4 linked regions of the Homo sapiens genome follow. The protein of the gene in region 2 interacts with the protein of the main gene of each other region in a pairwise test. Each region holds a gene or a part of one and is shown on either strand. Other genes may lie near its edges. The genes, in order: FHL2, SAP30BP, OGT and ZNF212.

Region 1 (7,032 bases), on a different chromosome or scaffold from region 2:
AGTATAAAGAGAAGTGTGGCATAGCTCCGATGAATTCCCATGGAGCATGACTTTTGGAGTCTAGGGACTGTATTCACCTATTGCACACCTGATAATGAACACCCCGTCTGGTTCACAGCAGGATGGAAATGGCTAGAGTGTGAATGAACCTGGAACCTCGAACCTGATTCAGTGAGCAGCCTCTACAACACTCACTTTACATACTGCCTGTTGAACCAAGTTGTGATGTATCTAGGTAGTTTTATGCACTGTACTAAGTGCTATAATTAAAACCTACATGTAGTTTTTTTTTGTTTTCGAGACAGGGTCTCACTCTGTCACCCAGGCTGGAGTGCAGTGGTGCGATCCTGGCTCACTGCAGCCTTGAACATCTGGGCTCCAGGGAAACTCCTGCCTCAACCTGAGTAGCTGGAACTACAGGTGCACACCACCATGCCTGGCTGAAATCTTCATGTGTTACTTGTACATCCCATTTAGTAATTGCCTAAACCTACGCCATCCATTGTCTTTTGAATAACTATTAGCATTTGATACATTTCTACCATTTCTCCAAGTGAACTGAGGAGCTCTAGAGAACTGAAACACTTATGGGTCACCCCTGCCACCACCAAGCTGGACTCACTGCAAGTGCTCGGTGTCTGTTGACTGACATTTTTTCATTTTTGTTTGCCAGAAAGAAGTGTATCTATTTATAGTAACGGATGATTCCAGATAGGCGTATAAACAAGTACCCTTCATATAAAGCAAAGGTAAAGAACAATCTGGGGAAATAAGTATCAGGGACAAAGAAAGAGGAAAGTGTTGTAAGTGCCCGGACTAGCTGAGGGGCCTGGCCACTGTGTAAGACCAAATCCAGACTGCTGCCTGCTTTTCAAATGAAGTTTTATTGGAACACAGCCACGCCCATTAATTTACTTCCATTGTTTACATCCGCTTTTAAGCTAGACGGCCGAGTAGTGTGCAGCTGTGTGCAGTTGTGCAGTTGTTGTGTAGTTGTAATAGTTGAGTAGTTGTGACAGAGACTGTATGGTCCACAAAGCCCCAAATATTTATCTGATTTTTGAAGGAAAAATGTTGCCAATCCCTGGGGACTGTGGCATGAGGGTCACATACATGTGACTTCAACTGGGGGTCAGGGAATGATGGGGAATCAAGCCGACAGAGGGACTGCCCCGCTCCAGACCAGGTGGAAGCAGCTGCAGTAACACAGGTGGCTTATAGGAGTCTATAGACTAGTCCATAGCTCTCAGCCCCAAAATCTTATGGTCCCAAGGACAAAGCTAGGGGTTGTATTTTAGCTGGCTAGAAAGTTGGTCATGAAATGTCTGTCCTCCAGTAATTAGGAATGTGCTGAGAATTATCACGATTGTTATTTAGGATCATTTTCTCAGCTTCCTGTACTTCCAAGACCAGACATTTGAGATTATATAAAATAAGCAGGGTGTGTGTTGGGGGGCAATGTGTGAGAGGGAATTTGGGATGGTGACACGCAGCGATCTTTTAATTCAAAACTAAGCTGTACAATCTATGGAATTCAATTGTGGGGTGATGAATCCTAAAACAAACATTACATGAAGCAATTGAAATTCAAGTAAAAATAGTGGAAGGACTTTGAATTCACAAAGATTTTCTTCAACCTCCATGCATACTTTTGTCACTTGCTCTTTGGATCTCTGACATTCATTCTGATCAAGCAGCCCAGAAGCCAAAGGATTTTGCCAATGAATATGGGGCAATTATGACTCTCATGGCATTCTTGTCGAGTTCTGAAATAAGTCTGATCAGATCAACACCAGTTCGAGGGCAACTCTACGTGCAGGGAATGCACAGGGCACCTGGAGCCTCAGGGACATGGCGCGTGCACCTCAGGCATGGCGACAGCAGTGGCCGCAAGCCTGCATGGTCATATGCAGCAATACCGGCAGGTGGCAGGAGCGTTCCTTCTCCTAACTGAATCGCACACTCTGAACCAAGTCTCCCGCAGGCGGAAGCGCAGTCTTGAAGAAGGGATGTCTTAATCTGATTCAAATAGTCAAATGAGGCTGGCTGCGGTGCCTCAGCCTTGTAATCCCAGCACTTTGGGAGGCTAAGGCGGGAGATCTCTTGAGCCCAGGAGTTGGCGACCAGCCTGGGCAACATAGAGAGTCCCTGTCTCTACCCCCCCAAAAAAAAAATTAGGCGGGTGTGGTGGTGTGTGCCTGAGGTCCTAGACACGTAGGAGGCTGAGGTGGGAGGATCATTTGAGCCCGAGAGGTCAAGGCTGCAGTGAGCAGTGATCGTACCACTACTCTCCCGCCTGAGCGAAAGAGCGAGATCCTGGCTCAAAAAAAAAAAAAGTCAAATGAGGAGCCAGAAATTTGGTTGCAGGGTTGGAGACAGAATCGCTACTTGAGTCTGCTCAGAGGCTGTGGTGCATCTGTAAGCAACGTCTGCTAATAGGGGCGCGAGAGCCGGTAAACCCCAGCACTGGGGTTACTGATGGTATTCCAGTTTCCTGATTGGTCATCAGGAAACTGACTTGTGTGGGGGGTGTGGAGCTGGTGGGTGAGTTTTTCACTTGTCCTCTAAATGTAAATTCACCGCAAAAGCTGTGCACTGACGCTGTAAACCCATATTCATCTTGAATGGGTTCTAACACTTTTAAAAATCAAACCCAGGCAAGCAAGTGCTTTGATTCAGTGTTTTGTCGGTGCTGGTTTGTTTTGCATACACCGGGATTCTTCTAGACGCCCTGCCTTTGGTGCCCAGTCCGTTTCTTCTGGCAGAGGCACCTGTAAAATGGGGATGAAGCCATCCAACCCAGGGAACACCGAAGATTCAATGGGATTCTGTAAAGCAGCAGGGTCTGACGCCTGTGTGTGTGCTCAGGGGCTGGAAGCTGTAGCTGTGTTGTTATTATTACTACACAGCATTTCTTACCACAGAGCCTGAATTCTTGCTTCCCCCATTCCTTAGTAGAAGAGGCTGCCGGCCAGTTAATTCTCAGATATTCAGTATGGGTTACCTCTCACTGAACATTAGGTTTTTACTTCTTATCTGATCATGTTTTTCTTTTCTTTCCCTCCCCAGTAAACACCATGAGAAAGGGAAGGTGTGATGGTTAATTTTATGTGTCAGCGTGGCTGGGCTCTGGTACCCAGTTGTTTGGTCAAAAAACAGGTTTACTTGTTGCCGTGAAGGTGTTTTTTAGATGTGACTAACATCTAAGTCAGCAAGCTTCGAGTGCAGCACGTTACCCACGTATCAGGGCCGGGCTTCATCTAATCGGTAGTGGGCCTTAGGGGCAAAGACTAAGGTTTCCCTAAGGGCAACTAATTCTTCTCAAGACTGCAATAGACACACCCTGCCTGAGTTTCCAGCCTGCCGCCCTACGGAATTCAAATGCTCCCATTTGGAACTGCAGTATCATCTCTTCCCTGAGCCTCCAGCCTGCTGCCCTGTTCTATAGATTCCAGACTTACCGCCTCCACAATCTCATGAGCCAATCCCTTGAAATCTCTCTCTCTCTCTCTCTCTCTCTCTCTCCTTATGTATGTATCTATGTGTATACATTTCCTTGATTGATTCTGTTTCTCTGGAGAACGTGACTAACACAGAAAGTCAAGACAGGTGAAAAATTCAAAATCCGGGAAATATGCATACTTTTTATGTCATGGTTGGTGCTAACAGTTAAAGTCTTTAAACAGCCCCTAGAGTCCCCAGTGGAAGCTTCCTTGGGCCCTTGTTCAGGAAACTAGTAAGGGTTTAATTTGTTTTTCAATTAATGTCGTGGTTCTTATTGTTACTGAGTGTTGTGTCTCTGCAGTGACTCCCTGTGGGGCAGGACACAGGTCAGCCTGGCTTTCTACGGGCTTCAATTCTCATTTGCACTGTCGCACAGCACTGGGGCCCGAGTTTCCAGCCTCTGCAGGATCCACATGATCTTAGAAGAGGCCTTCTTGCCTGGAGCTGCCCCATCTAAAGTCACCATGCAGCCCTTCCAGCTGTTTTCCCTTACAGCTGCCAACAGGGCTGGGACTGTGTCAGCCTGGGCATTTTTCTTCCCTGTCATAGTGTGTCACAGTTGTTTTAAAGTTATATTAACCAGAGAAATGTAGTGGCAGTAAGAAACCATCTTACCAAAGGTCAGATTACCTCCTTGCCTTTTTAAAAAATGATTATTCCTTATCCTACATAACTTTCTTTTTTTTTTGAGACGGAGTCTCACTCTGTCACCCAGGCTGGAGTGCAGTGGCGTGATCTCAGCTCACTGCAAGCTCCATCTCCTGGGTTCAGGCCATTCTCCTGCCTCAGCCTCCCGAGTAGCTGGGACTACAGACGCCCGCCACTATGCCCGGCTAATTTTTTGTATTTTTAGTAGAGACAGCGTTTTACCATGTTAGCCTGGCTGGTCTCAAACTCCTGACCTCGTGATCCGCCCTCCTTAGCCTTGCAAAGTGCTGGGATTACAGGGGTGAGCCACCACACCTGGCATCCTACATATATTTCTAAACTATTTCCCATATGTCAGTCTCTTCAGTATTTCTTTATTATCAAAAACAAAGCAAACCAACATGATGAAACCCCATCTCTACTAAAAATACAAAAATTAGCCAGGTGTGGTGGTGCACGCCTGTAGTCTCAGCTACTTAGGAGGCTAAGGCAGAAGAATCTCTTGAACCTGGGAGGCAGAGGTTGCAGTGAGTCAAGATTGCACCACTGAACCACATTGGCCAGGCCGATTTCAAACTCCTGACCTCAAGTGATCCACCCACCTCAGCCTCCCAAAGTACTGGAATTACAGGTATAAGCCACCGCACCCAGCTTCTTTCTGTATTTTGAAATTCCACATATTTTTGTCCACTTTGCTTTTTAAAATAAAAGATTCTGCTCTCCTACATAAAAAACAAAACAAAACAAATAACTCCCCCCACATACACACACAAAAAAACCATGAGGGACACAGTCCCATCAACACACAAGGCACCTTTATTGCCATCCTCGGCACCTGGCCCAGTTGCGGCTGTGCCCTTTTTGACTGTCCGTCTAGAACACCAACTCTACAAGGGCAGAGGACCAGGTGCACCTCGGCTCACACCCTACGAATGCTCAGCTCGAGCCCAGTGCCTGGCACGCAAGGGCACCATGCACACTTGGTGAAATAACTGAATGAGTACAAATTCAGCAGGTAGAAGGGAAGAAAAGAGAAACTATCTATGGTGGTGGGAGAGTGGGGGCTGATGCAGGAGATGTATTTTTAAGGGGGATACCCACCATTTTCTTACTCTAACAATTTGACTGCATAACACTGCCCCACGTGCACAGCAAAAAGATCCCGTTACTGCCCATGATAGAACCTGTATGTCCCTGCTTCGTAAGTACTCTAAATACTCCTCTGCAGTTCAAGGTCAAACTGGAAAGTCAACACGAGTGTCTGGAACCAAGTCAATGTGAACAGGGGGTCAGAGGAACGTGCACAAGGCTTGAAGCTAGACTGGCTCACGCATGAGAAAGGAGTGCCTCCTGACCTGGCATGATGGTCTTCTTGCATTCCTGGCACTTGGATGAGTACTCGTTGGAATAGCAGTCTGTACAGAGCAGCTGGTCCTCCTTGGCAGCAAAGGGCTTGTCCACCAGTGAGTTTCTGCACTGCGAGCAGTGGAAACAGGCTTCATGCCAGTGCCGGTCCTTGTAAGACAAGTCCTGTGGGGCCAGACCACACAAGACAGTCAGAGGCAGGACAGGAGGGCTTGGACCCACAGCATAGGGGCCCCTTGCGAATCTGCAGGGCAAACAAGGAAAGAAGTTGGGCCGAGGCACCCTGGCGCACCCACATTCATGCCCCAGGACCACCTAACTGCTGAAATCAATTAAGACTAGGCTGCTTTTCTCTTGCTGCATTTTAGAGCAACAGGTTAGACAGATGTGCATGTATGCACATGTCTGTGTGTGAGAGATGCTTCTAAAAAACAAAGGGATTTCCCTTATGTATTGCCTGCAAGAAAGAGAAACAGAAAACATGAACACCTATCAATTCGTCTCACACCACATCCGGTGACAGAGAAACAGACTGCAGGACATCCTTGGCTGAGGGAGCCCTGCCCAACTCAGATCACTGTGGTCACCGGCATGGCAGAGAGGCTCTGGGTGTCGGGATGTTCACAGGAGGCCCAAGGACTGTTTGGTGGGAGACGGTCAGGAGAGACTGTGTGTGTGGGTGCTACCTCTGTGGGTGGCCGTGAGCTGGGGGAGGAAGGGAATTTCAGGCAGAGAAAGAGCACAGACACAGAAGATCTGGGGACGGGGGGCATGTCAGATTGGAGGGACCACAGGCCAGGGGCGAGGTGGGAGGGCCCCCCGGCCTGGCTGGACTGGAAGATATGGCTGCCTTTTTGCCTTTTATGTCTGTGTAGAGATTCCATTGATCCTGAAGGCAGTGGACAGCTGCTTTTCAACAGGAGAGTGAAGTGCTCAGACTGGGGGACGGGTAAGGATGTGGGAGTGGAGGGGCGTGAGGGTGGGAGAAGTGAGACAAAAACTGAGCACACATGAGAGAGGCCCTGAGAAGACAGACGTGTGCTTTTGAGTAAAAGATGAGGGAGAGAAAGGAGCCCCGCAGAAAACTCGACTCCACACTTGGCTTCATCTTGCCTGAGGAATAAGAGAACCCTCCATATTTGCCTTTTAAAAATGACATACGGCATTTTTAAAGTGCCAACACAAAATTAAAATAACAATCTCTTTATGCCCAGCTTTATCTTAGAAAGGATATGTTTCTATTGCTGTCTTTGTGTTCCCAGCTCTGACCCCAAATCATCATCCATTTATACATGAGGCAGAAACAGAGTATTAGGCTCTGCACGGTTTCCTGGGCAGGCTTCCAGTTGGTAGGTATCCTGAACAGGGCACAGGAGGGCTGTTCACGCGATGGCCCTGAAGAAGAGCCTGCCCACGATGTCTCTGTTACTGAAACCGAAGTCGAAGCTGGAGTTATGCTGAATGTAGGATGTGAAGACATGGATCTTGGCCTTGATTAGAAAGTCCTAAAACACC
Region 2 (7,300 bases):
GTACAAAACGCATTTCTGTTTGTTGTGGAAATAATTTTTTTTTTTTTTAAGATGGAGTCTGGCTCTGTTGCCCAGGCTGGAGTGCAGTGGCGTGATCTCGGCTCACTGCAACCTCCGCCTCCCGGGTTCAAGCGATTCTCCTGCCTCAGCCTCCCGAGTAGGTGGGACTACAGGTGCGTACCACCATGCCCTGCTAATTATTGTATTTTTAGTAGAGATGGGGTTTCACCATGTTGGCCAAGATGGTCTTGATCTCCTGACCTTGTGATCCGCCCACCTCAGCCTCCCAAAGTGCTGGGATTACAGGCATGAGCCACCGTGCTTGGCTGGAAAGAATTTTAATGCTAACATTTACATACCAACATGTAACAAAAATTTCAAACAAATAATATATTTTAAGTGATTTAATTAAAACTTGCTAAGCAGTCAGATTTGACATCTAGACTCAACTCTGCCTGTCTTATGCTAAGCACCAACTTCAATTTCCTTGCGTTTTCTGCAAACTTAAATTCTGGCTCATGTTGCTCAGGTGATTATGTGTCTAAAGACTTTCTTGTTAATAATAGCACAGGTTCTCCTTTCTCCAGCACCTACTGAACTTCAGGCAAGATTTGTGATCAAGAACTAAGGGCACCATTATAAAAAGTGCCAAATAAAATGTCAAGAAAGAAGTTAAGAAGGCCAGGGATGGTGGCTCATACCTGTAATCCCAGCACTTTGGGAGGGTGAGGCAGGGGAATTGCTTGAGGCCAGAAGTTTGAAACCAGACTGGGAAACATAGTGAAACAACGTCTCTACAAAAAATTTTTTTTTAAATTTTAAAAATCGGCCAGGAGCAGTGGCTCACGCCTGTAATCCCAGCACTTTGGAAGGATGAGGCGGGTGGATCACCTGAGGTCAGGAGTTAGAGACCAGAATGGCCAACATGGTGAAACCGTCTCTGTGAAAAATACAAAAATTAGCCAGGCGTGATGGCAGGTGTCTGTAATCCCAGCTACTCAGGAGGCTGAGGGCAGGAGAATTGCTTGAACCTGGGAGGTGGAGGTTGCAGTGAGCAGAGATCGCACCACTGCACTCCAGCATGGGCGACAGAGCAAGATTCCGACAAAAAAAAATAATAATAGGTTAGCTAGGCATGGTGGCGCCCACCTGTAGTCCCAGCTACTGGGTAGGCTGAGGTGGGAGGATCACTTGCGCCCAGGAGTTCAAGACTGTAGTGAACTATCTATGATCACACCACTGCACTCCAATCTGGACAGCAGAGTGAGACCCTATCTCAAAAAAAAAAAAGAAAAGAAAAAGCAGGTGAAAACGAATTTTCCTTTCTTATCTTGTTAATAAACTGAGAAGACTTAAATGAGCCCCAACCAAGATTAAAAATAATGCAGAGTTGACTGTAGATATAAATGATACACCAGTTAGGATGAATGCCTGCTATAAATGGAGTAAATCATTTAAACAGGGAAAAATCAACATAAAACACCCATTGATATCTGGGTTAAATAAAATAATCCACTATCTTTTCCCCCAAATTTCAATTCAAAGATTAATAAAAAATGATCCATGTGAAAATACATTTTCAAACAGATCTGATATCCAATCCAGTTTCTTCCACTAATACTAAAACAAAACGGGAGAGCAAGGGATGGAGCTAACCATGAAATGGAACACTGTTGGCACAGTTCCAAAATCTGACAAATGAAATTGTGCTTTCAGTAGCTCTGGATCTGGGAGATTTACCTACCGACTGTCTACTGTTCTCATCTTCTTCTTCTTCATAACCATCTTCATCACCCCCTAGACGAGAAAAGTCATCCTCCCCATAGGCATCAGATACCAATCCGCCTTTCTCCTCTGAAAGGTTAAAAAACAAACAAACAAACAAAAAGCAAGAAAAAAAAAACAAGAGTTACAATGTAAGAAAAAATGTCCAGAGATTTGAGTGGCCAAGACTATCTCTGAAGATACAAAGGGAACCTAAATCTCATGTTAAGTTACAATAGGCCCAGATTCGGCTCTCTGAGAAGGCCAGCATTTACTGAATAAAATCATTAAAAGGTCAGGGAACAAAACCGAGTACTAAATTCTGTTTCTAATGCTATAAACACTAGATAAACACTAAAGTGTTTATAGGAAACCATCAGAGAACTTTCTGACTGGAAGAGACCACACAAAATCACAAAACATGGAAGTACCTAACCTAATCCAATCCCCTTCACTTTCCAGATGAGGAAGCTAAGGTCCTGATATGTTGTTAGGTAACTTGTTCTTTATTCTCCCAAAGGAATCTGTTTCCATTATCTAACATTGTGCTTCTCAACCTGAGGAGGAGAACATCACCGTTAGGCTTTAAAAACTCACAAAATAAGAAAAATCACCTGGGATCCTTAAAAAGTTCACAAATGCCCACATCCTACCCCAGTTCTACCGAATTAGGTTCTCTCACTTTGGGCATCAGATACGTTTGTTTTTAAAAGCTCCAAGATGTGTTTAGGGCACATTCCTAACTAAAAGTTATAAAGTTAACGAACACAATCTTTACCATCTTCCACGTATGTTTTACTTATCGCTCTCCCTCATCAAACAACGAGCCCAGGGGAAACAGGCAGTGGCTGAGCAGCCGCTCCCTCTTCGTCCATCCCTCTGTCTATCACTATAGCCGGCACGGAGTCTTTCAGTAAGTTTAGGCAAATTAATCGAAATAACGGGAAGGAGATTCTTCATTCTTAGTCCACAGTCTCTAATGCTCTATCTCACCCCGGACCCTGGACCATTCTTCGGGGTCCGGTGCTTGGAGCACAATGACCATCTTGTTCCCTCCCGCCCAGCGAGGGTACAGCATTCCGGGCAGACACCCGATTCCCCCTTCCAGCTTCGCACTTGGGCCTTACCAGCCGCGCTGCCCACCGCCTCGATTCCAGCCTCGCCATCAGACTCGGGCTCTGAATCTTCCGCGTAAACTGCGAGAGACGACAGAACATTCTTCTTCCCCGCCATCTTATTCCCACAGCCCGGGCGTGGCTCACTCCTATGACTCAAGACGCCGACTTCCGGGCGGAAAGGCAGGTTCTTTCGGATCCCAGGAGACCCCCGCGCCACACTGGAAACCAATCAAAACGGCAGTTTCCTGCGCCTGGCTCCGCCCTCATGCCAGCGCTCGCGCTACGTCATCACTGCGCGACGGATATAAGATTGCGTGGGTTCTGCCTAAAGCTGAATTCCCAGCGCTTTGGCTTCTCTGAGTTGGGGTTGTGTATAGGGGTCTTCGAACAGTTCCGGAACCAGCCAGCAGCCTTTAATTCTTGGGCGGACCACGGCCGGTTCTGATATCTTAGGGTGAAGAGAGGGAGGTGTCGGCCAGCCAAGAGAGAAAATTGCGGATCTTGGGCTCAGGAAGACGGGAGAAGGGGTTCGGGGTCCCGGGGTGGAAGAACGGTCGTCGTGGTTGCGCTTATAGAAGTAGGAGCAGGTGGTGGATCTTAGGAAAACGGTTCCCCGTTCTCCAAGCTGTTCTGAAGACATTTATGTTTCTTCTCTTGATCTGATTTCTAGCTCTGTGCTATACCGTGGCCTGGAATAGTTCAATGTTTTCATTTTCATTGAGCGTAAAAGTGGAGATGTTAATTACTGAGGAATGTATTGCTTGAGGCAGTTCACCTTCAGCTTTATTACTTAAAAATAATACATTATTTAAGTGTAATATAGCAAATTGTTACAGAAAAATAATCTGTATTTTTAATGCAAAACAGAGGGTTCTCGTGGCAACCTTTTACTACCTTTGCCTTAACCTTTGGCCACTGTTCTTGGCTAAGATGAGCAGCCACCATACCACCTTTCCTTTTGACCCTGAGCGGCGAGTCCGGAGTACGCTGAAGAAGGTCTTTGGGTTTGACTCTTTTAAGACGCCTTTACAGGAGAGTGCGACCATGGCTGTAGTAAAAGGTAACATTACCAAGCTACCTTCCTTTAAATTTATGCTGGCTATACCATAACGCTGCGGCAGAACACCCTCCTCCTCACCCTTCGTACTGCCTCACCTTTGGTCCATAACTGGATTTGGAAATCTTTAGAGTTGTCAAAGCTTGTAGTTTCGTTTATTTGTTTTAATTAGAGATGGGGTCTTGGCATGTTGCTCAGGCTGGTCTCCAAATCCTGGGCTCAGGCAATCCTCCCACCTCGGCCTCCCAAGGTGCTGGGATTACAAGCATGAGCCACCACGCCCGGCCCAAAGCTTGTAGTTTTAGTGGCAGAACCACCCAGCTGGTCTATATTTCATAGCTAGATTTACACATGGTCTTTGAAAACACTTCAGATTCTCATTATTGTTCGTTTGTACACACAAACGAACAGCAACAGTGAGGGTGGTAGGAATAACTTAACTCGGTCACTGGCCTCCTAGGTAATTCCCTTGTTGCAGGTTGAGTGGCCTTGGTCCCAGATAGAGAAGGAAAGAGTAATAATGTTATAAACCTGAGATACGGTGACAAATGGAAGTTGCCAAGAGGCGAGCAGCAATGTAATATTAATGATACATGTCTAAACAAAAGCCCTCTAAGTAATGTCCTCTCATGTCTACACAGATGTACCCACTCATCTAGCAGTACTCTGCTTTCATGGCTGTTTAGTTCAATCATCCATATCACAGCAGACTCAGACTTCTTTTTTTTTTTTTTTTTTTTTGAAACAGAGTCTTGCTCTGTCGCCCACACTGGAGTGCAGTGGCGCGATCTCGGCTCACTGCAACCTCCGCCTCCTGGGTTCAAGCAATTCTCCTGCTTCAGCCTCCTGAGTAGCTGGGATTACAGGCACGTGCCACCATGCCTGGGTAATTTTTGTATTCTTAGTAGAGACAGAGTTTCACCATGTTGGCCAGGCTGGTCTCAAACTCTTGCCCTCGTGATCTGCCTGCCTTAGCCTCCCAAAGTGCTGGGATTACAGGCGTGAGCCACTGCGCTTGACCCAGACTTTTTAAATCTTGTTTTTAACCATTACTAGAAATGGTTTGGGCATGTATCCAAGTTTCCCAGGATCCTTGCCTTTTTCATAGAAAGGACAGGAGGGGAATTAGGATTACATCGAGACCCTCCCATGTGCCAGACACTCTGCTAGGTGCTTTTCCTACATTCTCATTTAATTTTCAACAACTTCAATGAAAAGGCAGGAAGCACTGAGATATTGTTGTCTTGTATTTTTTCAGGTAACAAGGACGTCTTTGTGTGCATGCCCACAGGGGCAGGAAAATCCCTATGCTATCAGCTCCCTGCTCTGTTGGCCAAAGGCATCACCATTGTAGTCTCTCCTCTCATTGCTTTGATTCAGGTGAGGCTTAGGGCAATGAAGATGGTAGCCCAAAAAGATTCGGGGAAGGTTTTTTGAGGCTGGAAATTTCACTTCTCTATTGGTCTTTTGCCTCTTATTTTCTTTTCTTTTTCTTTTTCCTTTTTTTTTTTTTTTTTTGAGACAGAGTCTTACTCTGTCGCCTAGGCTGAAGTGCGGTGGTGCGATCTTGGCTCACTGCAGCCTCCACCTCCCGGCTTCCAGCAATTCTTGTGCCTCAGCCCCCCATATAGCTGGGATTACAGGTGTATGCCACCATACCCGGCTAATTTTTGTATTTTTAGTAGAGATGAGGTTTCACCATGTTGGCCAGGCTGGTCTCAAACTCCTGACCTCAAATGATCCGCCCACCTCGGCCTCCCAAAGTGCTGGGATTACAGGTGTGAGCCACCACACCCGCCCCTGCCTCTTATTTTCTATGATTTGCCTATCTCATTCGCTATATTGGGTTTCTGTATTTCCCCAATGTAGTGTTCTCCACTGGTGCATATCACTCTGGGAGGTTATGAATGACTCCTCTGAGGTCCCTCACCCTCCTTTGTTATTTTTTTGTTCAGAGGAGTATGAAACTGTATTTGTACACACATATACACTCAGTCTCATGTATACACACACGTGCACTCGTGATGTTGAGACAGAAGTTGCAGATGGATAGATAGCTAAGTTGATATGGGGAATCCCTGGTGTCCTGCTTATTTTGGTAAGGGCACAGTATGTGAAACAGAAAAAAAGATGAGAAACTGTCTGGGACCTTATTAACATCTGCTCTACAGGTGTTCTGACTATTTAAGGCCTGCAGATGGGCTGATAGAATCAGAATTGAGGAAGTGTGGCTGTGTGGGTAAGAGCCATCCACCATGAAGGAAGGTAGAGAGGGAACTACAGTAATAACTTGGTGAATGTTCACCAGGTCCCAGGCTTCGTGCTAAGTGCTTTACATACATTAATTTCTTTCTTTCTTTTTTTTTTTTTTTTTTTGAGATGGAGTTTCGCTCTTGTTGCCCGGGCTTGAGTGCAATGGCGTGTTCTCGGCTCACCGCAACCTCCGCCTCCCGGGTTCAAGCAGTTCTCCTGCCTCAGTCCCCCGAGTAGCTGGGATTACAGGCATGCGCCACCATGCCTGGCTAATTTTGTATTTTTAGTAGAGACAGGGTTTCACCATATTGGTCAGTCTGATCTCGAACTCCTGACCTCAGGTGATCTGCCCGCCTCAGCCTCTCAAAGCGCTGGAATTACAGGTGTGAGCCACCGCGCCCGGCTTACATACGTTAATTTCACCTCTCAGATGTAAATTTTAAGTTATACAACAATGCTATTAGATAGAATTGTATAAATCGTTCAGAGGGTAAGAAACAGCCAGCGAGCATGTGGCGATTAAGTGAGCCAGGATGAAATCTAAATCTGAAGTCTGTCTGACTTCAGAGCCTGTGCTCTAAACCACTTCACCTTCCATAGAGATTGAGCATCCCTAAAGCAAAAATCTGAAATCTGAAATGCTCCAAAATCCAAAAAATTTTAGTGCTGACGTGATTCCACAAGTGGAAAGTTCCACACCTTTCTGACCTCATGTGATGGGTTGCGGTCAAAACTCAGCCAAAACTGTTTTTTCATGCACAAAATTATTATTATTATTTTTAATATATATTTTTTATTATACTTTAAGTTCTAGGTACATGTGCACAACGTCATGTCAAAATTATTAAAAATATATAAAATTACATCTAGGCTATATGTATAAGGTATACGTGAAAGAAAAAATGAATTTCATGTTCAGACTTGGGTCTCATCTTTAAGAGATCTCATTATGTATATGCAATCTGCAAATATTCCTAAATCCAGGAATATCTGAAATCTAGAACACTTTTGGTCCCAAGCATTTGATAAAGGATATTCAACCTCTACTACTTCTATGCAAAGAGAATATATATTGGAGGGTGGGAGGAGGACAGTTTATGACTGGGAA
Region 3 (5,321 bases), on a different chromosome or scaffold from region 2:
TTTTTTTTTTTTGAGATGACATCTCACTCTGTTGTCCAGGCTGGAATGCAATGGCACGATCTCAGCTCACTGCAACCTCTGCCTCCCGGGTTCAAGCGATTCTCCTGTCTCAGCCTCGCATGTAGTTGGGATTACAAGCGTGTGCCACCACTCCCGGCTAGTTTTTTTGTATTTTTAGTAGAGACAGGGTTTCACCATGTTAGCCAGGCTGGTCTTGAACTCCTGACCTCAAGTGATCCACCTGCCTCCGCCTCCCAAAGTGCTGGGGTTACAGGCGTGAGCCACCACACAAGGCCACTTTGCCTTCTTAATGGATCATAAACTAACCCCACCCTCTACCAGACCTGGCTGAGAAAACAATTCCTAATATCATAGCTACAGTAGGGAAATTTGGTCCTTTCATGCTGTTTGGAGGTGTTTAAATATAGGTTTCATCATTGGATGACACTATTCTTCAGTCCAACACTCAATATAACAGGATACAAAATACATCAGCCGTATTAAAGGGAAATCATTCATTTATTAAGGATCGCAAGACAACATCTTAATTTCTGTAGTACGATTTAAATGTTTTACTTCTTTGATAAAGCAGAGTACAATAGAAAAAAAACAATTAGTTTCCAGTAATATCTATATCTCTAATCAGAATTAAGTCTTCCAAGACATATTACCTGGAAATAAAAGCCTGTTACAATAAGCAAAGCTTCAACCAGAGCGGCTACTTTTCGTGCCAGGAAAAAGTTCATCCCTATAGGAGGAATGATGTGCTATGTAAAATGGCTGTAAGGTCACAGCCTTGAGGGCATTGGAAGTATATTATCCTATTCCACATTAAGTATTTCAGCGAATTTCAAACATCAGTTTATCTGCAACCATGCTGGCAACCTTTAACTGATATTTCAATCAACCGGTAAAAAATAAATTAAGAAATCCCTTCACGGATATTCCGTGATTTACACTGTTAAAAGGTACACTGTTCATTAACATGTAATTCTGGTTCAGAATTACCTTTGAGACTCCTTGCTCAAAATTTGGTTAACAGTAAGAATCTTCCAGAAATTCAAGTTCTTATTAATCAATAATTTGTCAGCTAGGATACATTCAGGCATCAGCTGCAACTACAGAATAGGTGCACAGCCTCAGCGCTTTGGAAAGACATAATCTAGAACACTACTAGCAGACAAAAAATTACCTGCAACTGGATAGCGTAAGTGCAGTATAGCGAGACAAAACATATATTCATATGTTGGCTTGTTTAAGCCTCAAACCCTCGACCCTTTGTTGAGATCCCATAATTTTATTCCTATGATTTTAATAACTCAAGTTCCAGGAGGACTATAAGTCTAATTTGTACTCCAAACCAAACAGCAGTGCAGTTCGCTACTACTGAGGCTGAATCTGTACAGACTTCAAGACCAAGTCCAGAAGACAGTTATTATCTAAAAAATAATTACTTGAATACATAGATGATCCTTCAGAGATTTTACCTATAACCTATTTCTTGATGAAGGTTATTTAATGCACTGGAGATAACTGTGACTTACTGATCAAATACTTGAATACTTATACTTACCTGGGATTTCATTTCTGCTGAAAGAAATAGGAAGAACAGGACTCACTTAAAAAAAAAAAAAAAAAACTTTAGAAAGGAAGGTAAAAATCTTACACACACTATCACTTTTGGAAGCAGCATAGAAGGGGCAGTCAAGGGTAAAACACTGGTGAAACAGGTCAAAATTAGGAAAAAAAAAAAAACTATATTATTATCAATGACAGTACCACAACTGTGCCCTTGATAATTAGTAATCACTCCTAAAAATCTTCATTTGGCACCAGATGGTGTGTTTAAAACACCCTAGGATGTTTTGAATCAGGCTTGATTTTGTTAGTTGAGTTACAGGAGAATTTTAAGGGTGAGGGTATGGGGGTCAGGGAAGAAAAGGAAATGGGAAATGGACCAGAAAAAATCTTGAGTCATCATCTAAATCAACAAAGCACTGATAGCTCCAAATATTAGGTCAGACACTAAAACGACTGATATAGGCTCAAGTGGTTTATAAAACCTATAAAAAGACTACACCAGCAAAGTCCCTGTCAATCTGTCAGAGTTCAGAAACTAAAACAGGGAGTAACATTTTAGCTTAAAACCTTATCTCAAGAGAATCATATACACTTCACATGAATAAAAATACCTGAAACCAAACATTTTTAAAAGCTCCAGTACCCAAAATATAAAGAAAAAAAAATCCAGAAGACTGAATCAATCCATGGAATCACAAAGCGGCCGGACAATCTATATCTCCCCTCCACACTAACCATCCCATGGAAGACCAAGGGAGATCAGACCTTCCAGACCTATGCACCATCTGGTCGCCGCAAAATTCTACGGAGATTCCTTGTGGAAAAGCAGTTTCCCATCTTTTGTGTCTCTCCCTACCATGCAGGAAGCAAGTCTGGCTGTGCTATTCTATTACCATTATATATCACCCATCTGCAACAAGGTACTGTACAGACAAGTAAGAAGTATGTTATCTAGTTCCCTTTCCCCCAGAAGGTTGAGGCTCAGGTATAGGGGTAATTCTCCTGTGCAGTCTTTATTTATGCTGACTCAGTGACTTCAACAGGCTTAATCATGTGGTCAGGTTTGTTGCCAGCTGCATAATGCTCCCACATCTGTAGATAGAGCCGCTCTAGTTCCATTGTGTATTGTTTGGTGTTGAACAGAGGGCTAGATATTCTTTGCTTCCAGACTTTGCCACGAACTTTCTTCAGGCTGGGTAATAAAAAACAAGAACCCAGTTTACAAATCAGAGCAGAAACTCAGAAACACACCCTATAAATACCTAGTCGCATTTGTGGCAAAAAATGCATGACCAAACTCTACGCTATCTCATTTCTTGATTGGCTTCGTGCTAAAAAGGGAAGGGTCACATCTTGCATAATGCTAACACTGAAATGAGCTCAACTCCATATACTCTGAAAAAACTTAGTTCTTTCCTAAACAAGTATATCCAAGGGATACCACGCGTTCTCCATTTCGTCTTGTTTCTACCTTTAAAATAACAAGAATTGACAACGGCACATGACTATTCCTATGTACTGTTGCTTACCTTTTTGGTAAGCAATTTAGCAAGTATGTATTAACCTTAAATGTTCATAACCCTCTGGCCTAACAGTAACACTTTAAAATCTATTAAAAAGAAATAATCAGATGCAAAAACATACAGGACCATGCAAAGATATTCATTGAAGCATCATTTACAAAAGTTAAAGCATAAACATAAGATGAAGTATTCGATTTATGGTCATTTTGATGAAACAGAAAACCACTCAAGGGGAAAAGAAATACAATAAGTCTACTCTCGTAATTTTCCACTTGTACCTGAACTGAGTTCAGATTTTTAAAAATTGCTAATATCACCAAGAGTATGGTTCTGTTCAGAAAAATAAAAAAGAAGTAATTGATTCTTCAGGAAACACAGGGGAAAAGATTTCTACTTCCCTTTTGAATATATTTTTCATGAGATTATTCTTAGATGAAGGGATAAATACTTTAGAACCAGAAGCCAGAACATTTCTGTGCATTTTTAAAAGCAATAATTTTTATTTATTTTCTTTTAATTTTTGAAATAGAGTCTCACTCTGTTGCCCAGGCTGGAGTGCAATGGAACGATGATGGCTCACTGCAGACTGAACCTCCTTAGCTCAAGCAATCCTCCTGCCCCAGCCTCCCGGGAAGCTGAGACTACAGGCACGCATCACCACACTCAGCTATTTTTGTATTTTTTGTAGAGATGGGGTCTCGCCATGTTGTCCAGGCTGGTCTCGAACTCCTGGGCTCAAGCAATCCTCCTCCCTCAGCCTCTTAAAGCGCCGGGATTATAGGCATGCGCCACCACGCCCAACTTTGTTTTAATGTTTGTTGTGACAGAAGCAGTAAAATGGTTGTGCATATCTGTTGGTCTCAATACAACCATGTCCATATTAATGCTACCCTCCAAAGAGAAAGACCTGTGCACTCTATTTTTTTAAAATTCTATGCCAATAGGAAAATAAACTGTAGTGCATTCATACAGTGAAATACTACTCAGCAAAAGAAATAAACTTGATGAAAGAAGCCTTTAGAGTGCATATTGACATAGTTCCATTTGGATAAAATTCTAGAAAAGCAAAACTAATTTATGGAAGGGAAAAAAACCCTCCAGAACAGTGGTTGTCTCTGGGGGTTGGTGAAAAAGACTGACTGATAAGGAGCATGAAGAAACTCTCTGGAGTGATAATGTTTTTTGTCTTCATAGGAATTTGGGTTACAAAGGTATTTCTCGGTTGGGCACTGTGGCTCACACCTGTAATCCCAGCACTTTGGGAGGCCGAGGCAGGTGGATCACAAGGTCAGGAGATCAAGACCATCCTGGCTAACACGGTGAAACCCCATCTCTACTAAAAATATGAAAAATTAGCCGGGTGTGGTGGTACGTGCCTGTAGTCCCAGCTACTCAAGAGGCTGAGGCAGGAGAATCGCTTGAACCCAGGAGGCAGAGGCTGCAGTGAGCCAAGATCACACCACTGCACTCCAACTTGGGCGACAGAGCAAGACTCCGTTTCAAAACGAAAAAAAAAAGGGTTATTTCTCAAAACTCACTGAATATTTGTGTATTTCACTGTATATAACTTCCGCCTCAAAAGAAAAAAATGGCCAGGCGCAGTGGCTCACGCCTGTAATCCCAACACTTCAGGAGGCCAAGGCAGGTGGATCACTTGAGGTCAGGAGTTTGAGACCAGCCTGGGCAACCTGCCAAAACCCTGCCTCTACTAAAAATACAAAAATTAGCTAGGTGTGGTGGCTCATGCTTGTATTTCCAGCTATTCAGGAGTTTGAGGGGAAGACTGCTTGAGCCCGGGAGGCGGAAGTTGCAGTGAGCGGAGATCGTATCACTGTACTCCAGCCTGGGAAACAGAGGGAGACCCTACCTCAAAAAAATATATGTGTACTGAACTCCAGTTAATGACAGCCAATCTTAAGTATTTAAGGAGAAGTGTACTGATGTCTGCAATTTATTTCAAAATGTGTCCAATAAGATGGATTGGCAGATGAATAAAGGGAATAAATGGATGAATAGATATGTAATAAAGCAAGAATAGTAAAATGCTAATGGTAGATTCTAAGCAGTAGGTATAGATGTGTTTATTATAAAATTAAAAATTTTGAGAACAAAAATGTTGAGGAAAAGCATTGTATGAACCAAACTAAGTACCAAAGAGTCTAATAAAAATTTTAAAATGCACCACAGGCTGGGTGCAGTGTCTCACGCGCCTGTAAT
Region 4 (6,488 bases), on a different chromosome or scaffold from region 2:
GTTTCCTTCTACTTATTTGCTCGCTCTCCCCGTGGAAAACTGTAATGTCTTTTAACGGGTCTCCTTTGGTCCCAAGTGTTCTTACAAAATGTTTTGTGTACATGCATTTTTAATTTATATAAATGGTGTTACATTATAGATCTCAATTTCTTACCTTTTCCCCTCGGCATTGTGTTTAAGATGGATCCAGATGGCTACGCATATATCTAAGCCAATGCTCGTAACAGCTACCTGGCACTCCCTGGGGTACCCACATTTCACCTACTCTTTCTACCTCCCAATAGCCATCACCCAGACTGTCTCCAGCTCTCCACCATCATAAGTACAGTCCCCTGAAAATTTTCACCCATGCCACATCTTGTCTTCTGTCCTAGGTTTAAGTAAAAGTGCAGGTTAGGCTGTGCCATCAGTCCTTCCCTGTCATCACTCCAGGTCAGGTGCCTCTCCTCCACCTTGGCCCCAGGAGAGTGTTCTTGACAAACGGAGAAAAACATCCAGTATGAACTTTTTTTTTTTCTTTTGCTAGTAGCAAGTTTTATTCTAAGCAACCGCAAATCATCCAAGGGGATGTTCACATATGACCCCAGAGCCCACTCCCATCCCCCCAGACAGCAGCGGGGCACACATTCAACACTCCTGAGACAAGCCATCTGTGTGCTTTTTCTGTACCCTCTCTGGAATAGGCAATCCCAGAATGCATTTGGAAACTGTAATCCGAACCACCTCAAGTAAGGATTGGTGTAATAGGAACAAACTCAAATAACCACTGGTACAAGGTGAACAACCTTAAGTAACAAAGTAGTTTTCTACTCTGGGAGGCTGCAGAACATAGCCAGGAGGAGGTGGGAAGAGGAGAGGGGTATGCCGAGACACCGCAAGTCCCAGACCACAGCCATACCATCAGCAACTTCACTGGAATCTTTCTTCTCAACAGGGCTGCAGGGTCTACCCCTCCGACTCTTTTCCTCTTGGTCCTTTTGAGACAATTTGAGAGCACCAGGCACTGCACGAGGGAACCTAGCACCGTGTCCCCTGCTCTCCGGCCTAAGTAAGCATCAGTGGGCTAAAAGAGCCCCATTAACAACTCCCTCCTAGAGGGTAGGTCCAGTCCCCAAGTTAGGAACAACTTCTACAACTCTTAAAATGTAAAAAACAAGTGTTGGGCTGTATTCTTTAAAAAATCAACTAAAATCTAATTCCAAAAAAGGTTCTTCAGAGCAGGGCTAAGCAGTTCATTTAAATTATTTCTTCTACTTATTATTAAACAAAGAGATTATAAAACAAGAAAAAATGGAGGGTTATACTTCCCAGAACTCTTCCAGGCAGCTGCTCACCCCTATGGCCCGACTCAACCCCGTGGGAAGACATGAAATGCCGGGACGAGCCCTGGAACCAGCCACCAGTCCCTGTGGGGTCAGAACGCCAACCCCAGCCCACAAGCATTGGCATGAATGAGAAAACCAGAGACCTGAAGGTGCCAAGAAACAGCAAACTTGGCAGCAGGATGAAGACCTGGCCTGGACTCTTCTTCCACAGGGTTTTCAGGACAGCCTTTGGGCTTGGCTTGGTACTGGGACAAGGGAAGGCAATCACAAACAACTGCCCTCAGGAAGAACTCAGTCCCTGACTGCAGTGTCTCTTCGGGGGAACCAATGCCACCCCCCTCCATCCCCCAGACGGGCGAGGGGCTGCACCCTTAAAGCAGGCCATTGGGCCTTCCGGGCTCCAGGGCCAGCCCACCCCGCTCCCGCTGGTGGATCTTCTGGTGCTGCAGGAGGTGCTGCTTCTGGACAAAGCTCTTCTCACACTCAGTGCAGCTGTAGGGCCGCTCACCCGTGTGGATGCGCTGGTGCCGCACCAAGTCAGATGGGTGACTGAAGCTCTTGCCACAGTAACCACAGATGAGGGAACTCCGGCTTTTCCTCCAAGGGATGTGGCCAGGCAGGGCAACCAGGCTGTTGGGTGAGAACCTCTCTTGGACATGCTGGCCGGCACTGGGCCCCTCCTGCAGGTGGCAACGCTGATGGGTCACCAGGCTCACCTTGCAGCTGAAGCTCCTCAGGCACACATCACACTGATGCAGCTTGGCCTTTTTGGTCTGTGGTTTCAGCCGTGGCCTGGGCCTAAGGCTCTCCTCTGGCTCCTCAGGTGTACAAGACCCCCACCCAGAGTGGCTGCGCAGATGTGTGGCCAGCTGCTGCTTATAGCGGAAGGTGATCTCACACTCAGAACATTCGTAGGGGCGGGAAGTGTCCTTTTTCAGCTTCAGGCCCTGCCCACATTCCTGGTCCAGCTGTACCTGCCTATGAGATTTCTGCTTCGGGCAGCCCACAGTTCTGCTGCTGCTAGGAACTCTACTACCAACAGGCTCCTCTAGAGTAGAGTCCCCAGGACCTGTTTCCAAGAGGACAGAACTGCCCTGACCACCCCAGAGTTCGGTCTGCTCTGGGCTCAGGAAAGCCTGCTCTTCAGCAATGCATGAGAACTCTCCAGGAAGATCCGCAGGGCCTTCCTGTGTATACTGTAGCTCCTGTTTGATCATGACCCCACCTGCTGCAAAGTGGAAGAAGACCAACAAAAAAGATCACATTCTAGTACCTTTGGTTTCTTCAGGACCAAACAAACATCTGTGAATTTCAGAAGCACCCCAGGAATAAGTGAATTAGGATAACGTGGAGGAGGATGACACTGGCTAGGTTCCAAGACTTCTATAAAACTATATTCATGTACAGTTTTTCCAATGTTGATTGGAAATATAAATGTATTACTCTTATAAAACAATACTGTAAATGATAGTTCTCCAAGCTTGTCTACAAATTTATATTTAATCCCTGTGAAAAATGACAGAATACACTGTAACAACTATACTCAATTAAGAGTGTTAAAATAACAAATTTGAATGATTAAAGACAAACTAAACCTACAGCTTAAGAATTCATGTCCAGCTCTGTTCTTCCTCCATAACCTCCCAAATTACCTACTGACAAGTGCTTTTCCTGCACTGCCTTCCCTCCTGAAGCTCTGACATACCTACGCTCAATCTCCAGCAGGTTTTGACTACCGCCTCGTACGGTACTCTATTCTGTAGGGCATGAAGAATAATGATTGATGTGGCCGTTAGTCTTAAAGACCCCACAGGGTGGTAGGAGTTGAGGCATATGTAACAGCTGAACTAACGACAATCATAAAGGAGTCCAGAACAAGCAGATGCCAGATGAGGTCACCAAGTCAGCACCTGGCACTTCAGCCGTGGGAAAGCTCACTCTAGGCTACAGAGGGCTATGGAAGGGGAACAGAATATTCCAGAGCCACTCACCTGGGTGGGCACCACCAGGACCTTCCTCTTCCAAGTCACCCAGCATCTCTGTACCCAACTCCGCTTCTCCCTCTGTCTGGCCAAGGACCTCTGGGTGGGAAACAGCACAGTGTGAGCCCAGGAGAGAGTGAAAGCTCACTGCACACTGATCAGCTGCCAGTGACCAAGATGACCAATGGCAGGGAGGAAATATAGATTCAAAGGCTACTGTTCTTGTCAGTTTCCCCTAGCAGTTTGGGACAATTATAAAATTCTGGCCAATCATAACAACTGACTTGGCTAGCTGCTGCCTCCAGTGCTCCTCCATTAGAGGGGCTGTGGCTCAGGCAGGCAGGCTACAGAGCTACCACTGCCCTTGATGGCACCACCACCCACCTCTGCCTCTCCATGTGCGTGCAGCTTAAGTCTTGCCAATGCTTCCTTTCAGGGGATCTAATTTCATCCTTGCTAAGGCACTGCAAGGTAAGATGGGCACTGGGACAGACAAGGAAACAGTCACAATGAGAGCATGTGACCCAACCAAGCTTACAAGGTCACTTTTCTGGCCCATTTTCTATTTCCTTTACCTCCTACTCTGCTCCAGGCACTTGACACTCCTCCATGTACCTAGGTTTTAAAAGACTTTGTCTACCAAACAAAACACATTTATTATGTAATAGGTAACATTTTGCATATAAAGACTTATATCTATTAAGCAGCACTCCTAATCAACAAGAAAAAATCACTGAGACCACAATGACCAGCTATAATTCCGGCCAAACACCAAGAAAATGCTTTTGATCAGCCTGTGCTGCCTGCCTCATCCAAGGTAACATAGGGTTATCAAATCATCTTTTTTTTTTTTTTTTTTTTTTAAGCAACAGAGATCTCACTATGTCGACCAGGCTGATTTCGAACTCCTAGCCTCAAGCTATCCTCCCACCTTGGCCTCCCAAAGTGTTGGGATTACAGATGTGAGCTACCACACCCATCTCAAATAGTCTTAAATATTAAAAACAGCATGAGAGGCCAGGTGCGGAGGCTCACGCCTGTAATCCCTGCACTTTGGGAGGCCGACGTGGGTGGATCACTTGAGCCCAGAAGTTCAAGACCAGCCTGGGCAACACAGTAAGACCCACGTCTCTACAAAAAATTTAAAAAATTAGCCAGGCGCAGTGGCATGTGCCTGTAATCCCAGCTACTCGGAAAACTGAGGTGGGAGAATCATTTGAGCCCAAGCTGTCAAGGCTGCAGTGAGCCGAGATCGTACCACTGCACTCCAGCCTAGGTGACAGAGTCTCAAAAAAAAAAAAAAAAAAAAAAAAGATAAAACAGGCCAGACGCAGTGGCTCACACCTGTAATCCTAGCACTTTGGGGGGCTGAGGTGGGCAGATCACGAGGTCAGGAGTTCAAGACCAGCTTGGCCAACATGGTGAAACCCCATTTCTACTAAAAATACAAAAATTAGCTGGGCGTGGTGGCAGTCACCTGTAATTTCAGCTACTCGAGAGGCTGAGGCAGGAGAATCGCTTGAACCTGTGAGGCAGAGGTTGCAGTGAGCCAAGATTGTGCCACTGCACTCCAGCCTGGGCAATAGAGCAAGACTCTGTCTCAAAGAAAAAAAGAAAAAAAAAAGATAAAATAAATTAAAAAACAACATGAGGAACCCTAGCCATATCACACTATAGGGTATATGACATTTTATTTATTAGAAAATACTATCAAGAACAGACTATGTGACCACAGGAAAAAAAAAAAAAAAACACAAAAGGCACAATGCTGCGAGCTTTCCAAAAGTCTCTGTAAATGGGAGGACCTAGAGACTGGCATTTCTCCACCCGTGCAGGTCTGTAAATGGGAGGACCTAGAGACTGGCATTTCTCTGCCCGTGCAGGCCGACAGAGGACCCACAGCCACAGGAGCCACAGGTGTGGTCTGAATTACAGGCTGCCAGCCAGGAATTGTAGTATGTCTGAGACAGAATTCTAGGGAGAAAACTGCTACTCACTCAGAGAGACCAGTGTCTCATAGTTACTCTCCATCACGTTTCTGTAGAGCTCCTTCTGCCAATCCTCCAGATTCTCCCATTCCTGCTCGGTGAAACAGACGCCATCATTCTCCAGTGACCTGGACACCTGGAATCACCAATGGCACACCATGAGTGCTTCTACTCACAGCTATGACAGAAAAGCCAGCAACTGAGGTGCTTACATATTAAAGGGCTGGCTCCCCCTTCTCTTCTAACTTTTAATCCTCAATGAGACTACCTTGGGGGCCTCCCCCTTGCTGCCCGGGGGCAGCCGCAGGATCCAGAAGTTCCTGTTGCGCAGCAGGTTCTCCACGTTCTCCAGCCGCCTCTGCAGTAGCCCATACTCCTGCAGCAGGGTCCCCAGCACGGCCCACTTGCCCTCCAGCTGGTTCCCGAACTCCACGGCCATCTTCTCGCAGTCAGCCAGCTTCTTCTCGGCTGTCCCCGTGCGCCCCTCCAGGCTCTGTAGCCGGGCAGCCTGGGACTCCATCTTCTTCTCCACAGCCTGAATAGCGGCCACCACCGTCCAGAGTGAAATCTCGGTGGTCTGAAAATAGGAGCTTTTCTCTGTTGCTTGTGAAGGAAGTGTGGAAGAAGTTAAAGGTGTGGAGCGTCGTTTTCTCCTGTGCTGATGGATTAAAGACACAGGGTCAATGTCACTTCCAAACATCAAGTAAAGAAAGCAGTGTTCAAGTGTATCAGTGCTCAGAGTTATCTAGTTTCTTTTAATTAAAAAAAAGCATGTCTTTTATTGATACTAAAAATTATACATAGATATTGTATTAATAATGTTGGAAAATGATGAAGAATAGAAAGAAAATATTACACAAAATCTTCTCACACACAATAAGCTGTTAGGGCTGGCCGTGGTGGCTCACAACTGTAATCCCAGCACTTTGGGAGGCCAAGGCAGCTGAATCACTTTAGCTCAGGAGTTTGACACCAGCCTGGCCAACAAGGCAAACCCTGTCTCTACAAAAAAGTTCAAAAAATTAGCCAGGCATGGTGATGCATGCCTGTAGTCCCAGGTACTTGGGGCACTGAGGTGGGAGGACGGTTTGAGCCCAGGAGGTTGAGGCTACAGTGAGCCAAGATCGTGCCAGTGCACTCCAGCCTGAGTAACAGAGTGAGACCCTGTCTCAAAAAAGAAAAAGAAAGAAAGA

What was found.
Region 1: the proteins of SAP30BP (region 2) and FHL2 interact in a two-hybrid assay, tested with the Homo sapiens proteins (one study listed by BioGRID and IntAct).
Region 3: the proteins of SAP30BP (region 2) and OGT interact in binary tests that used the Homo sapiens proteins (3 or more experiments, as listed by UniProt).
Region 4: the proteins of SAP30BP (region 2) and ZNF212 interact in a two-hybrid assay, tested with the Homo sapiens proteins (one study listed by BioGRID and IntAct).

What each region holds. Positions count from the first base shown.
Region 1 is NC_000002.12:105,368,052-105,375,083, forward strand, and holds part of FHL2 (four and a half LIM domains protein 2), read right to left. Parts: intron 5,683-7,032; coding exon 5,508-5,682; intron 1-5,507. UniProt on the Homo sapiens protein: May function as a molecular transmitter linking various signaling pathways to transcriptional regulation. Negatively regulates the transcriptional repressor E4F1 and may function in cell growth.
Region 2 is NC_000017.11:75,663,070-75,670,369, reverse strand, and holds the start of SAP30BP (SAP30-binding protein), read right to left. Parts: upstream 3,033-7,300; 5' UTR 2,998-3,032; coding exon 2,892-2,997; intron 1,855-2,891; coding exon 1,745-1,854; intron 1-1,744. Other genes in the region: RECQL5 (ATP-dependent DNA helicase Q5), read left to right, coding at 3,813-3,942, 5,198-5,319. UniProt on the Homo sapiens protein: Plays a role in transcriptional repression by promoting histone deacetylase activity, leading to deacetylation of histone H3.
Region 3 is NC_000023.11:71,571,072-71,576,392, reverse strand, and holds the end of OGT (UDP-N-acetylglucosamine--peptide N-acetylglucosaminyltransferase 110 kDa subunit), read right to left. Parts: intron 2,774-5,321; coding exon 2,599-2,773; 3' UTR 501-2,598; downstream 1-500. UniProt on the Homo sapiens protein: Catalyzes the transfer of a single N-acetylglucosamine from UDP-GlcNAc to a serine or threonine residue in cytoplasmic and nuclear proteins resulting in their modification with a beta-linked N-acetylglucosamine (O-GlcNAc).
Region 4 is NC_000007.14:149,249,624-149,256,111, reverse strand, and holds the end of ZNF212 (zinc finger protein 212), read right to left. Parts: intron 5,954-6,488; coding exon 5,564-5,953; intron 5,432-5,563; coding exon 5,305-5,431; intron 3,407-5,304; coding exon 3,317-3,406; intron 2,554-3,316; coding exon 1,697-2,553; 3' UTR 506-1,696; downstream 1-505.